Linked DNA regions of Homo sapiens. The protein of the gene in region 3 purifies or fractionates together with the protein of the main gene of each other region. This does not show direct contact. Each region holds a gene or a part of one and is shown on either strand. Other genes may lie near its edges.

Evidence for each region.
Region 1: the proteins of ALDH7A1 (region 3) and HIBCH fractionate together in Homo sapiens (co-fractionation; one large-scale study listed by BioGRID). This does not show direct contact.
Region 2: the proteins of ALDH7A1 (region 3) and SCPEP1 fractionate together in Homo sapiens (co-fractionation; one large-scale study listed by BioGRID). This does not show direct contact.
Region 4: the proteins of ALDH7A1 (region 3) and SUCLG1 fractionate together in Homo sapiens (co-fractionation; one large-scale study listed by BioGRID). This does not show direct contact.

What each region holds. Positions count from the first base shown.
Region 1 is NC_000002.12:190,288,827-190,292,326, reverse strand, and holds part of HIBCH (3-hydroxyisobutyryl-CoA hydrolase, mitochondrial isoform 1 precursor), read left to right. Parts: intron 1-1,841; coding exon 1,842-1,922; intron 1,923-3,500. UniProt on the Homo sapiens protein: Hydrolyzes 3-hydroxyisobutyryl-CoA (HIBYL-CoA), a saline catabolite. Has high activity toward isobutyryl-CoA. Could be an isobutyryl-CoA dehydrogenase that functions in valine catabolism. Also hydrolyzes 3-hydroxypropanoyl-CoA.
Region 2 is NC_000017.11:56,976,962-56,980,930, reverse strand, and holds the start of SCPEP1 (retinoid-inducible serine carboxypeptidase precursor), read right to left. Parts: upstream 2,801-3,969; 5' UTR 2,772-2,800; coding exon 2,696-2,771; intron 1-2,695. UniProt on the Homo sapiens protein: May be involved in vascular wall and kidney homeostasis.
Region 3 is NC_000005.10:126,585,220-126,588,719, forward strand, and holds part of ALDH7A1 (alpha-aminoadipic semialdehyde dehydrogenase isoform 1 precursor), read right to left. Parts: intron 1-3,500.
Region 4 is NC_000002.12:84,449,281-84,452,780, forward strand, and holds part of SUCLG1 (succinate--CoA ligase [ADP/GDP-forming] subunit alpha, mitochondrial precursor), read right to left. Parts: intron 473-3,500; coding exon 369-472; intron 1-368. UniProt on the Homo sapiens protein: Succinyl-CoA synthetase functions in the citric acid cycle (TCA), coupling the hydrolysis of succinyl-CoA to the synthesis of either ATP or GTP and thus represents the only step of substrate-level phosphorylation in the TCA.

The sequences.
Region 1 (3,500 bases), on a different chromosome or scaffold from region 3:
TTCAAAAACAAACACCCCAAAAAACCAGGAAAAGAAGTCGACATATGGAACATTTTGAAGGAAGAGATATCAGAATTCTAGAGTTAGGAGGCCCGAGCCGGCAGATCACCTGAGGTTGGGAGTTCGAGACCGGCCTGGCCAATATAGTGAAACCCCTCTCTACTAAAAATACAAAAATTAGCCAGGCATGGTGGCACATGCCTGTAATCCCAACTACTTGGGAGGCTGAGGCAGGAGAATCACTTCAACCTGGGAGGTGGAGGTTGCAGTGAGCCAAGATTGTGCCACTGTACTCCAGCCTGGGCAACAAAGCGAGATTCTGTCTCAAAACAAACAAAAAACAAACAAGAGAATTCTAGAGTTAGTGTAAGAATTGGTAGACAACATTTTGTATGTAATACTTTCCCATAAAAGAGGAAACATATCTATGAAATGTTTAGTTTGTGTTTTAATAGATAAATCTCATAGGACTTAAAGACAAGAAAGGCATATGAGTTGCAGTATATAGAAGAGGAAACTTTGATAGCAGTCTTGAGATTGACTGGAGGAGGAATATGGTAGGAGATGTGAACTCTGGGTAATAGAAGATTGCAACAGAAGTGAAACCATTTGATAGTGTTCACTATTCAGTAGATATTTACTGAGCATTTGTTTTTTAAGCCAGGCAGTGGTATGCTGTAGCAATGTCTTTGAGAATTTACATTTCTATCGATGTTAATAAATAAGAATGTCAGTATATTATTTACCTGTCTAGCCTCACCTTTTCCCTTTGCCCTTTAGTCTTTTAAAGCTGTTTGATTCTTGATTTTACTCTTCTTTCTTGACTTTGAGGCTTTGTAGGGTACTGCTTCCCCTAGTCAGAATTTTTCTTTCTGTCATTTTCTAGGAAATTCCTATTTACCTTTTCCAACTTGGCTTAGGGTTACCTCTTCTAGGAAGCCTTCTTTTAATTAATTACACATCTCCTGCTCCCATTCTGACAGCACCCCAATCCTTACAGGACAAAGAATATGTTTTAGTATCAGTCTAAACTCCAGGACAGCCATCTTGTGTTGCTGTCTTTATTATCTGCAACACCTAAAACATTACTTGGTATGTAGTAGGTGCTCAATAAATGTTTTATGGGGGAAATGAATGTGGCAGAAATATTTAAGGACATGGGATACGTTGTAGCACTATACACACACGTATAATACATTTTGTATTAAGACATATTACCAAAGGAAATGTATGTCTAGCAAATGTTAATTTAAGTGCTAGAGAAAATAATCAAAAGAAAATGTAGCTTGTTGCAATATATTATTATTTTTTTTAAGGAGACAGGGTGTCACTCTTCTCTCCAGGCTAGAGTACAGTGGTGTGATGATGGCTCACTGTAGCCTCAATATCCTGGGCTCAAATGATCCTCCCGGCTCAGCCTCCTGAGCAGCTGGAACTACAGGCATGTGGCACTGCAGCCAGCTAATTAAACATTTTTTGTTGAGACAGAGTTTCACCAGGCTGGTCTCAAACTCCTGGCCTCAAGGAATCCTCCCACCTGGTTTCTCAAAGTGCTGCGATTACAGGTTTGAGCCACCATGCCCAGCCTATAATTTCTAATCTAACATTTTGTAAGAAGCATGGAAAACAAGAATAGGAATTTTTGCCTTGAAGCTTTGACATTGGACTATGGATCTGTGACTATAATATAATGTCTGTGGCAGGGGCAACTTCAAAACTTTTAACAAGTCATTTTAGAGTACTCCCTTCCCCCAGTATTTAATTTTCATAATACTTTTGATCTAGTTGACAATGTTGACTATTAAATCTTTTTTTTTTTATTTGTAATCTTTCCTTCCTAGTGATCTCGGAAGCTGAAAAGGCAAAACAGAAGATAGCTCCAGTTTTCTTCAGAGAAGAATATATGCTGAATAATGCTGTTGGTATGTGTATTCTGCTCAGAGCTTTGGAAATGGAATAAAGAAATGAGGTGGACAGTATGTACTTTGTTAAAAATGCAATCAATAGGCATCCTTACTTAAACTTTTAATACCATGTGCCAGGCATAAGTAAAGTTGATTAAACTATTTTAAGTGCTTATTTCAGAACAGTTACCCTTTAATATTAGTAGGCTATACTTAACTGCTATTTGTTATAAAATCAATATGAGGCCAGGCATGGTGGCTCACGCCTGTAATCCCAGCAATTTGGGAGGCTGAGGTGGGTGGATCACCTGAGTTCAGGAGTTTGAGACCAGCCTGGCCAACGTGCTGAAACCCCGTCTCTACTAAAAATACAAAAATCAGCTGGGTGCGGTGGCAAGTGCCTGTAATCCCAGCTACTCGGGAGGCTGAGGCAGGAGAATCAGCTTGAACCTGGGAGGTGGAGGTTGCAGTGATTCGAGATTGCACCACTGCACTCCAGCCTGGGCAACAAAGCGAGACTCCGTCTCAAAAATAAATCAATATGAAAATATGGATTTCTCATCATGTGGTAGCTTTCTTGGGGGAAAAAACTTGGGTTCCAGTTTTCTCTATGAAATGAAGTATAGTATCATTTCCTAATTCTTAGGAATAAAAATTTCTTTATATTCAAGGTTCTAGGTTTCATTGGAGGTGAAGCAGTACTTTTATCTAGCATGCGAAGTTAAGATACAGGAAATAACATAATAAGTACTTGTGTACCCTCCAGCCCAGAATTAACAGACGTCAATATTTTGTTTTTGCTTGATGATTTAAAATTTCTCCAAAAGAAATATAATACTGCAAGTTTGGAAGTTACATTTCAGCCCATTTTTTTGCTTTCCTCAGTGCCATTACTTTCCCCAGAAGCAACCATTTATCCCTCCTCAAAAACAACCATTGTCATTAATTTTTAGTGTATTCTCCTAGACCATATTTGACATTTTTACTAAATATTTATGAACTAAAAGATTTTAAGTTAGAATTTGATTGAATACATGATATTAACGTATTTTGACATATAGTTGGAAAAATAAATTCAGTTTTTGTCATGTGCCTTTTAGACAAATAAACATTTATATATTGGCATAAAAACATGAATTAATATCTAGTAGATTAAACACATGGGGATATATATGTTTTTCTAAAAATATGAATTGATGAAAATAATTACTAAGTGATGAAAAAAGCTGTATACTCATTTAACATTAAAGTATTTAAAATAGTAAAACATAAGTTTATTTTTATTTTATTATTTATTATTTATTTATCTTTTAAGAGAGAGTCTTGCCCTGTCACCCAGGCTGGAGTGCAGTGGTGCGATCTTGGCTCACTGCAGCCTCTGTCTCCCAGGTTCAAGTGATTCTCCTGCCTCAGCCACCTGAGTAGCTGGGATTACAGGCATGCACCACCACACCCTGCTAATTTTTGTATTTTAAGTAGAGACAGGTTTCACCCTGTTGGCCAGGCTGCTCTCGAACTCCTGACCCTAGGTGATCCATCTGCCCCGGCCTCCCAAAGTACTGGGATTACAGACATGAGCCACGCACCTGGTGTGGT
Region 2 (3,969 bases), on a different chromosome or scaffold from region 3:
AACCTCGGCTATGAAAAAAGAAACCAAACTTAACAGCGGCATAGGAGGCCAGGGGCTTTCACTTTTTCCTCTACACTTTTCTGTAATGTTTGGATTTTTAACAATAAATATGAAACACTTTTTTTTTTTTTTTTTTTTTTTTGATACGAAGTCTCGCTCTTGTTGCCCAGGCTGGAATGCAATGGCGCAATCTCGGCTCACCGCAACCTCTGCCTTCCGGGTTCAAGCGATTCTCCTGCCTCAGCCTTCCAAGTAGCTAGGATTACAGGCATGCACCACCACGCCTGGCTAATTTTGTATTTTTAGTAGAGATGGGGTTTCTCCATGTTGGTCAGGCTGGTCTCGCACTCCTGACCTCAGGTGATCTGCCCGCCTAGGCCTACCAAAGTGCTGGGATTACAGGAAATACTTTTATAATTCTGTAAAAACAAGAGAGATTTATATTTTGAGTAAAAAAGTAAAAATCTCAGAATGCAATATACTGGTTTTTATATCGTATTTAATACATGAGTAAGACACCAGGCTTGGTGGCTCACTCCTGTAATCCCAACACTTTGGAAGGCCAAGACAGGCTGATAGCTTGTGCATAGGAGTTCAAAACCAGTCTAAGCAACATAGCAACACCCCATCTCTACAAAAAATGCAAAAATTAGCTGGGCATTGTGGCATATGCCTGTGGTCCCAGCTACTCAGGAGACAGAGGTAGGAGAATCGCTTGAGCCCAGTAGGTTGAGGCTGCAGTGAGCTGTGATCACACCAGTGCACTCCAGCCTAGGTGACAGAGGGAGATCCTATCTCAAAAAAACAAAAAACCAACCAACCAAACAAACAAAAAACATGAGTGAAGAGGCATCACAAATTAGTGGGGCTGAGAATATTCAATATACAGTAATGGAGCAACAATTACCTTTTTTGGAGAAAAAAAGAGAAATTTAGGTCCTCTCAACACTATAAACGAAATAAGTTCCATGAGGATCAAGCAATTAAATTTTAAACTTTAAACATTAAAAAAATACAAAAATATAGTTAAATATATTTCTAATGTCTGGATGAGGAAAGAATCTAAGCAAACCCCAGAGACTGTACAAAAGAAACAATGATGGAGGTGAGAACAGAAACTTGTTATATTTCTATACAACAAAATTTCTGTAAATCAAAAATAAAAAGGCAAACAGCAAGGAAAGAGCTACAACAAATATGAAAAAGGGCAATTTTCCTAACTCATGTAGATGATTTTTTTAAACTGAACGATATATATCTGTGTATGTGTGTTTAATATACGTATCCTATAATCCCCTAACTCCAATTTTCCTTACTTAACTTTTCTAGCATCCACAAAATATGTTTTAGAAAAGAGTAGGCTAAATACATTTTCTTTGTCACTTTTTGCTAACGTAACAATTTCCAAGTTATAGCATCTTTTTTTTTTTCCTCCAAAACCACTCTGGGAAAAAAAAAAGTAGAGGGGCTGTTGTTAAAAGATGATGGGGGGGATCCCCTCGGTGACTGGAGTTTTCTGCCTTCTATTTCCTCCCTTCTCAAATTTCAAGCCCCATTGGTCAGTAAAAGAACACTGGTCCCAACAGCTAAAGAGACAGGAGTAGAGAGGAAGACAATGAGACAACGTCTTGTAAATAAGAAAGAGCCAGGGTGGTGGCCTGTGTCTGCAGTCCGGGCTACTTGGGATGCTGAAGTAGGAAGATCACTTGAGTCAGGCAGTTCCAGACCAGCCTGGGCAACATAGTGAGACCCTGACTCAAAACAAAACAACAATGAAGATTAAGAAAACCAGAAAGTGTCCTGAGGAGCAAAACAGATGACTAAAACATTACAGACTTAGCTATAAGGTTCTATATACAAGTAACACACGATTATATTGTCCTTGACAATAACAGATAAGGCTGCGCTCCCTTGAGAATGACAGATAAGGCGCAGGTACCTTTTGACCTAACCCCAGGCACTTCTCCCTTGCCTGGCAGTGACTACTGGTAAAATTGGCAGAGCTACTTATTTTACAAAATCTCCCAGACACTCGCCTAAGGGCCAGATGATCCCCATTTTAGAAAAGGAAAACAAAACTGTTCAACAACTTGCCTAAGGTCACAAGGCAAGCTTGTGGCCAGTTCCAATTCTCAGTGCTTGCTTCAGACTAGGAGAGGTTTTGCTGAAAATCAATTTGCAAGTCATCCTATTAAACACAAATCTGTTTTTTGCCAAAAAAGATCGCTGTGGGGGAAGATGTTATCTTGTTTGTTTTGATCAAGAAAAGAAAGGGCCTTATCTCAATGAAATGTCCCATTCGTGGTAGGATGTAAGGGTACTTTTGACCGCAGATTTCAGCTTAAAATAAAACGACCTTATATCCTCATTTAGCAGCCAATCATGGCCTTTGAATCGGGGAAACCTCATTGACCAGCAGTTTCCCCAAATCATACATTTCTGCACACAGCTTCTATCTAGGCGTAGGAGAGAACGGAAGCACTCAGACCACCCAGAGCCAGAAAAGGACAAAAAAAGCACTTTGAATTTTTTAAGGAAAAAAAAAAAAAAGAGTGAGATTCAAAAGCAATATAATTACACAAGGTAAGAACCGGGGAAAAGAGACATGTTTTCAAAAGCACAAACCCAGTAACAAACTCTCACGCCTGGAGAAAAAAGAGGCATGGCAGCTGGTGCGCCTCTTGCTTGAACCTACCTGCGTTCAGGCCCAGCAGCAGCGGCAGCAGCAGCAACCACCGCGGGACGGGAGAGCGCCGCAGTGCCAGCTCCATGACAAGTACCGCACGGCAGCATCAGCAACAGGCTGGACCCGGCGCCCCATCACGTGACGGAGGCGGACGGGGCGGGTCGGGGGCGGGGCCTGCGGGTCGGGGGCGGGGCCTGAATGGGCATGGGGCGGGGCCTGGGCGGACCCGGCAGCTTGCTGAGACCCGCACGCCCTCTGCCCGGCAAGCCCACCAGGACCCCTGCAAATGCGCAGGGGCCGTTCTGTCCGCCTGGCCAGGTTCTCTGTCATTTTAGGGAGAGTATTTCGGAAAGGAGACATTTGATGCAGATGTTGGATTTAGGTTGTGTGACCGGATCGAAATACTAAAGGGAATAACCACCGCCCTTTCTACCCCTCCCATCTCTTCCTTCCCTCAGCAAAAGAACCGACGTTTTCCAACACTGCTACATCTGCGAAGTCAGATTAAGCCAGCTGGTCGTTGGCAAACAGCGGGGTTTCATTTTCAGATATGTATTTTTTAAATTATTTTTCTTTTAAAGTTATGTATGTTATAAACGTTTTGGAAATATGAACAAAAAAGTTATACATAACTATTGTTGGCATTTTTTCCCATAGTCTTTTACGTCATTTTAAAAAACACTAATAAAGATTTTTATTTTTTTTTTCTTTTTTGATAATTTGTCATTAGTATTACTCTGTGTTACGTTATCTTCACAGCAGTCATTTTAAAGAGAGAATCGAGGGTCTGGGGACGGGAAAGGAAGAAAAAGTGGATGACAGAGCTGTTTTCCTCTGTGTGTGTGTGTGTGTGTGTGTGTGTGTCTGTCTGTCTGTCTGAAGGTCATTTTTACGTTAGAGGGTACTGAATAACTCACCTCACAGCTAGGAGACAAGCTACAGCAGGGGCTGTAGGAGAGGCTACTTCTAAATACTGCTTCAAAAGTACATGTAACAAAAAGCAAAAAACAAATCAAAGTACATGTGGCCACTTCTCCTCTTTCCCTGCTCCTTTCTCCCTCCCCTCGCCCTTGACCCCCATAAATGGAAGTGCTTTTTACTCTGCAGCCATTGTCTGGACAGAGCCTTGACCCCGCCCTGCCTGTGAGGTGCCCCTGCACTGAAAGCTGCGGCAGAGAAAAATATGCCGCCGGGTTCTGTCATGCTTTAAGCATGGGATGGTCCCGAATGCATAAAATCCATAATGCCTGGGCAACATATTGAGACCCCCTCTCTACAAAAAA
Region 3 (3,500 bases):
CCCCGGAGGGGGAGGTTGCAGGGAGCTGAGATCCCGCCATTGCACTCCGGCCTGGATGACAAGAGTGAAATTCTGTCTCAAAAAAAATAATAAAGTACAGGTAAAAGGAACATTCCCCTCCATGAAACCTTCCCCCAGGCAGAAGCCAATCACACCCTCCCCCTAACTCCCACTGCTCCTAATCACAGCACTGCTCACACTTGCCTCACAGAGCTTGGCTGTGAGCTCAAGGTTCTTCCTTGCTCTCTCTTCTCCCCAAGTGTATCACTGTCTCTTAGTACAGCTTCTCTGGATGGTCACTTTGCAATCTATTAACATTTAAAACATTCCTACCCTTTGTTTTATCTATTTATTTTTTGAGACGGGGTCTCGCTCTGTCACGCCCAGGCTTGAGTGCAGTGGCGCGATCTCGGCTCAGTGCAACCTCTGCCTCCTGGGTTCAAGTGATTCTCCTGCCTCAGCCTCCCAAGTAGCTGGCATTACAGGCGCCTGCCACCACGCCCGGCTAATTTTCTGTATTTTTAGCAGAGATGGGGTTTCACCATGTTGGTCAGGCTGGTCTCGAACTCCTGATCCCAGGTAATCCGCCTGCCTCGGCCTCCCAAAGTGCTGGGATTACAGGCATGACATTCCTACCCTTTAACTAAGCAGCTCTGCTTACAGAAACTGAGCTTATATACATAAGTATGCAAAAGTATAGGTACAATGATATTCATTGCAGTGCTGTTTCTAGTAAAGAAAAAAAGAAACCAACTGTCCATCAGCACATGATTGGTTAATTACGGAACAGTGATAAAATAAGGTCGATTTTTATGGGAAAACATTGAAAAGCTATAATAGAATAATACAAAACAAGAAAACACTTATGGTAAGTAAACTTTTGCTTAAATTTGGAGCAACATATACCAAGCTGTTCACAATGGTTTTTTGTGGGGAATGAAATTATAACAGATTTTCATCCACAATTTATATGTTTGCAATGTCTGTCATTTTCACAACATATGCACACTTTTGGAAACAGGAAACAAAAACCTGTAGCATTATATCAATCAGCACATAACCTATACATTTCCTAGCACATGGTGTGGGTTTAATGATGTTTCAATTGAATTTAGTCAGCACATTTATAAGCTTAGTTAAGTTGGTTAATTTCAACTCAGAATGGCCAGTATACATGGCCTTTTACCTCCCATTCTGGACACATTTTATTCAGTCAGTCTTTCAACAAATAATTATTGCATATGTTCTATGTGCCAGATACTGTGCTAATCCCTGGATATTCTACTGCAAATGAGGCAGTTACAATTCTTGCCCTCTATAGAGCTGACAGTCCATGGGGGTGATAAAGGCAAGAAACAGGCAATTACAATCTAATGTGGCAAATGCCATGAAAGGGGAGCTAGATTTCACAACTGGAGCAACCTGAAGTAGGCTTTTTACAAGTTTAGAAGTTTAGGGCTAAGACCTAAAGCATGCCAGGTGTTGTGAAGAGGTAGGCAAAGTGGAGGAAAAGCATGGGGTTAGAGGGGTACAGAGCATATGCAAAGGCTGAAAAGCAAGAGAAAGTGGTTTTGGAAAATTATGGCCGGGGGCTGTGGTTCCACGCCTGTATTCCCAGCACTTTGGGAGGCCGAGGCAGGTGGATCATTTGAGATCAGGAGTTCAAGACCAGCTTGGCCAACATGGTGAGACCCTGTCTCTACTAAAAATACAAAAATTAGCCACGCTTGGTACCTGTAATCCCAGCTACTCAGGAGATTGAGGCAGGAGAATCACTTGAACCCAGGAGGCAGAGGTTGCAGTGTGCCGAGATCGCACCACTGCACTCCAGCCTGGGTGACAGAGTAAGACTGTCTCAAAAAAAAGAAAAAAGAAAGAAAAAAAAAAACAGTTCCCTGTCTTCAAGAACAGAGAGACTCCTACTCTTTCTCACCAGAGATGGGAGGGAAAATGAGGACACATGGGGATGCAGACGGCAGAAATGGGCTACATTCTGTGCTGAAACTGGCTCATGGAAGAAAGCAGCAAGTCTATTCCTTAGAAAGAAATCAATTTCTATAAACTACCTTTCCATATGTTTCACTTTGTTTCCATTTTCCTTAAAGAAAAATGTTCCCTTTGAAAAATTCTAGAATTGGCCAGTCACAGTGGCTCATGCCTGTAATCCTAGCACTTTGGGAGGCCAAGGCGGGTGGATGGCTTGCGGTCAGGAATTCAAAACCAGCCTGGCCAACGTGGTGAAACCCCATCTCTGCTAAAAATATTTAAAAAATTGGTGGCGGGCACCTGTAATCCCAGCTACTTGGTAGGCTGAGGTAGGAGAATCGCTTGAACCGGGGAGGCAGGGCTTGCAGTGAGCCGAGATGGCACCATTGCACTCCAGCCTGGGCAACAAGAGCAAAACTCTGTCTCAAAAAAAAAAAGAAAAAGAAAAATTCTAGAATTAACTCAAATGAACTACATGAAACAGTGGTTTGTCCTAACACAGTCAAGGTCAGCCAAATGGATGAGGGCCAAGCAGAGAAGCCTCACGTGAGGGAGGATCGAGATGGGAAAGCTTCTGTGACGAGAAGGGGGTCAAGCTTTGGTCTGTTCTTACCGAGCCTCTCTAAGTCCCTGCCCCAGGGAGGAGCCCCAGAGCACAATTAGGAAAAACTCTGCCTCTTCCCTAAACCTTGAACTCAATTGCTTAACTCAAAATCAAACAAGTAGGATCCCCAGCTGACTCTACTATTACCCAGGAAAGCAACCTGTTCCCACGTAGCACCCCCATTCTATTTGTTGGGAGGTCTAAAAAGCACCAGAAGTATGAGAAAGGATGTTAGGTGCAGAGGCTGGCATGGTGGGTAAGAGTTGACTGCCAAATGAGATCCTGAATGTGAAAATAGCAACAAAAAAAGTACAGCCCAATATTTAAGAAAGATCATAATGTCAGCTGGCACTCCCTAGGGCAAAGATAGATTTAAAAACCAGTTCATTCCAGGTGTGGTGGCTCATGCCTGTACTTTGGGAGGCAGAGGTGGGCAGATCACTTGAGGTCAGGAGTTCAAGACCAACCTGGCCAACATGGTGAAACCCTGTTCTCTACTAAAAAATACAAAAAAAAAACATTAGCCGGGCATGGTGGCTCATGCCTGTAGTCCCGGCTACTCAGGAAGATGAGGCAGGAGAATCACTTGAGTCTAGGAGGCAGAGGTTGCAGTGAGCCAAGATCATGCCAGTGCACTCCAGCCTAGGCAAGAGCAAGACTCAGTCTCAGAATAAAAACCAGTTCAGGAAAAGACAAGACCCTGAATTCACATAAATTCTTTTTTTTTCAAATGTTTGTATTTACCCTAGATAAATAGACACATACAATAGACGTTTCTAGTCAAAAGACAACATGTTAAGTTGCACTAGCATTCAAAACAGGATATGCAAAGAGTGAACCCTCATGTAAATTGTGTACTTTAGTTTATAATAACACATGAACATTGGCTCATCAGTTGTAACAAAATATG
Region 4 (3,500 bases), on a different chromosome or scaffold from region 3:
CTGTTTGTACAAAACCTAAACACAAGAATCTAGTTGACCTAGTGCTTAGTCAAAGAAACGGTGATCTCTTTCAACACTGGAGGAAAATCATTAGTGTTGTATTTGCTGAAAGAAAGTGTATGGGCCTCCAAAACAATATACTCCTAGTAAGCATACAATATACTCCTTTGCAAGGTAAGTTTAAACACAATTTTTATGTTATAGGCTGACAATAGCAACTAACCTCCTCCTGAGATACAACCCCATTGCTGTACAGTATATTTTTCTGCAACAATCATGTGTTATTTTTGAGATATTAAAAATAAAAAAATAGTTAATTTGTTATATCTCTAGTCTACATTTGAAAATAAAAATCTAGATATACATACCTGTTTGCCAGTGAAACCCTGGCAAATAATCTTTGTATTTTTATCAACATAGAGATGTTGCCGAGAAGCTGTGTAGGAACAATGCCGAATTCCATTCTGCGGCACTAAGAGGTTAAAAAAAAAAAAAAAAAAAAAAAAAGACACATTATAATTTTTCTAAACTTTTGAACAATAATTCAACTTGATCACAAAAAAAAAATTCTTTAATGCACGCGCTATCCTGTGATCACGGCAAACCTAAATGCCACCTTTTAAATAAGACACAGTGACCACAGAAATAAGAAAAACAGACAAGACATTGTTCCATTCTCCAGGATCCTCTCTTTATCAAGAACCACGATCTTGTAGTTTTTTCCTGAACTGAGGGAAAAAAAAGCAATGTTTATCATTTTTATTTCCTAGAAAAAAACTGGGGCTCAAAGATAAATGGTTAAAATTAAATCCAGGGACTGAAAACAAAATGTCACCCCTATTAACAATGTTTACTAAACAGCCACGTTTCCCCACTTGACCCAAATTTTTAAAGCCTAATACCTTTAAATAGGTAAGCTAAGAGGCAAACTTTGTCAGGAATACAAGTAAAAATCACTCAGCAACTCATTCTCTAGTAAGAACAACATATTAAATGTTAAGTCATAGGATAAAACTTATCTAAAATATAATACAAAATCACTTAATCTCTTCTGATATGAACTCATGTATAAAAGACACAGGGAAAATAAAACAAATAGGAAAGTAGACAAGACAGGAAAAAGCTTGTTAGGAAAAAAAAAAAAAAAAAACCCTAGGTTATTGCAGCAACCTACCTAAAAGAGAAATTGAGAAATCTAAATAGTTACTACAACCAGCTCCCCACATTTCAAAACACAGTAGGAGGAACATAGATGACTTAAAATTTTGGGCTACCTTCTAAATGTCCATTAATACTAACAACCTGACTTCTCTGTGGCCCATCCCTGGCCCTTTCAAAGTAGCCAGGCCTTCTACCTATCATTGTGGTAGCCCATGAAGCTAGCCCAAGAAAAGAACATAAGGAGTAATCTCTATTGAACAACAAAAAAAGAACACCTGTCACATATTTGCCCAGAGTCCACTCCATGCTTTCTGCCTTAAATCACTGCCTCATACCCACCTAAGTCCTGACCTCACATTACATAACTGAAAGAGCAACAACATCTGCTTCTGGAGGAAGTATATGGAATCCCTTACACCTCTAGGGAGAAGACAGGCCCAGATTTAGCCCTTACCACCTGGATAATATTTGGTACACACAAAGAACTGCTACGTAACAGGCAGCTTTCTCATACTAGACTGTGCTCAACAAGGGGCCATGGGCTTTGCAGGTCAAGTTCTGGCACATCAGTCACAGCTAAGCATCTGACTCTAGGCCAGTGGACACAGCAGGGATTTATGGCCTGAGACCCTGTCCCTACTGAGCTGTGCAGCACAGCCCACCCTTGCCAGTGCTGCATTCGAGACCCATTCTTGCCCTTGGCTTCCACTTCTCCCAGCTGAACACCTACAACCATGGTATTTGTGTAGAAGCTACACCCTTTCCTACCCTGCTACAATTTCTGACTAGTGGAATTGGCTTTACCAGTCCCTCCCATTGCATCTTCAACAAATGCTCATATCATATCATATCATATCATACCATATGTTTTCAGACCAGAAGGTAGAAGATTTGATTATAAGATCAGATGTTATGATCAGGATATCTGGAGTCCCTACTTGTTAACATAAAATACTTTTTGTAGGTAAAGTTTGGTTCTGCACAAGTACTCTTATACTCACTAACTTAACAAAGATCAGACAATTCACTTCTCCTTCCACAGGAGCAGAAGTCACCCTGAGAAAAGGCAGGTCTGTCTGTGTCCCTAAAGCACAGCTCCAATAACAGACCAACGAAGATCTCTGCTTTCTCGTAGTAACTCCAGATCTCCTGGATCAATTCTATGGAGCTCAAGATTTTACAACATCAGATCTTTGGTGCTCATAAAAAGTGTATCAGAAGTGTGATAAACAGCAGCTTACCTCCCAATCCCCTAGCCTTTTAGTGTTACTCAGCCTGTGCAATGCCCCTGAGAGCCTGCAGCATCTAATTAACTAAATCTTGGGAAACCTCTAATGCACAGGTGTAGATGTGTGTGCGCTCATGCATGTGTGATCTCCCCATCTACACACCAGGCCTGGGCTCATACAGACCCACTTCTAGATAAGCTGGAACTAACAGACTATTATCGTCTTACAGGCAAATCCAAGAAATGTATTCAATGGCAAGGAAGTGAAATTCCTGATCACATTCCATCCTGACAATAAACCTGTATGATGCCAGACAAGGTTATCATCTGGTACTGAAATGTGAGTTCGTTCATTGATTCAATCAACATTTGAGGAGCACCCATACCAAGCCATAATGTCAGGTGTCAAGGATAAAGTGATGAATGACAGTGTCTCAGCCCTCAAATAATTCACAATCTATCTGAACTCATATAAAAGTGGGCCATAACTGCGTGGTGTGTGAAGTACTATAATAAAAAAAAAAAAAAGCCTTGGGCATTTGGGGTGGATAAACTCCCCACACCTATTCAAGGTAGAGAAGTCTATGAATGTGTAAGAGGTGGGGAGGGTGACAAAGCCACCAAATTACTACAGTAAGTGACTTCCTAAAGTGAAATTTAGAACACAAGGCATACATTGGTGGCCAAACCATCTTGCAAATATCTCTTACCTTTCAATTAAAGATTTAATGTCCTCAACTTTCTGAGAATTTCACTTACATTGATCCATATAAATTAACATTTAAATAAAACATTACACAGTCAAGAATTCCTATATCTTCACACGATATACATGATTTATGAGTATACTGGGGGACTTTAAAAGGGATCTGAGATTAAGAAGAATAGAAGCTACAAACGCTTTCATGTGGGTATACAATAAACACCATCACACACTACATTACTGAGTGCACACATATTCTTACTCTTTTCATCATGTTATTTTTAAGTGAAATTATCTAAGCTTAAATTTATTTCAAGACTATTTCAAGTACCATCTAAATACTTTTCCCACTGCTAACTGTAAACTCCATGAGTGTCAGGACCATGTCTTACTCATCTTGTCTCCTAT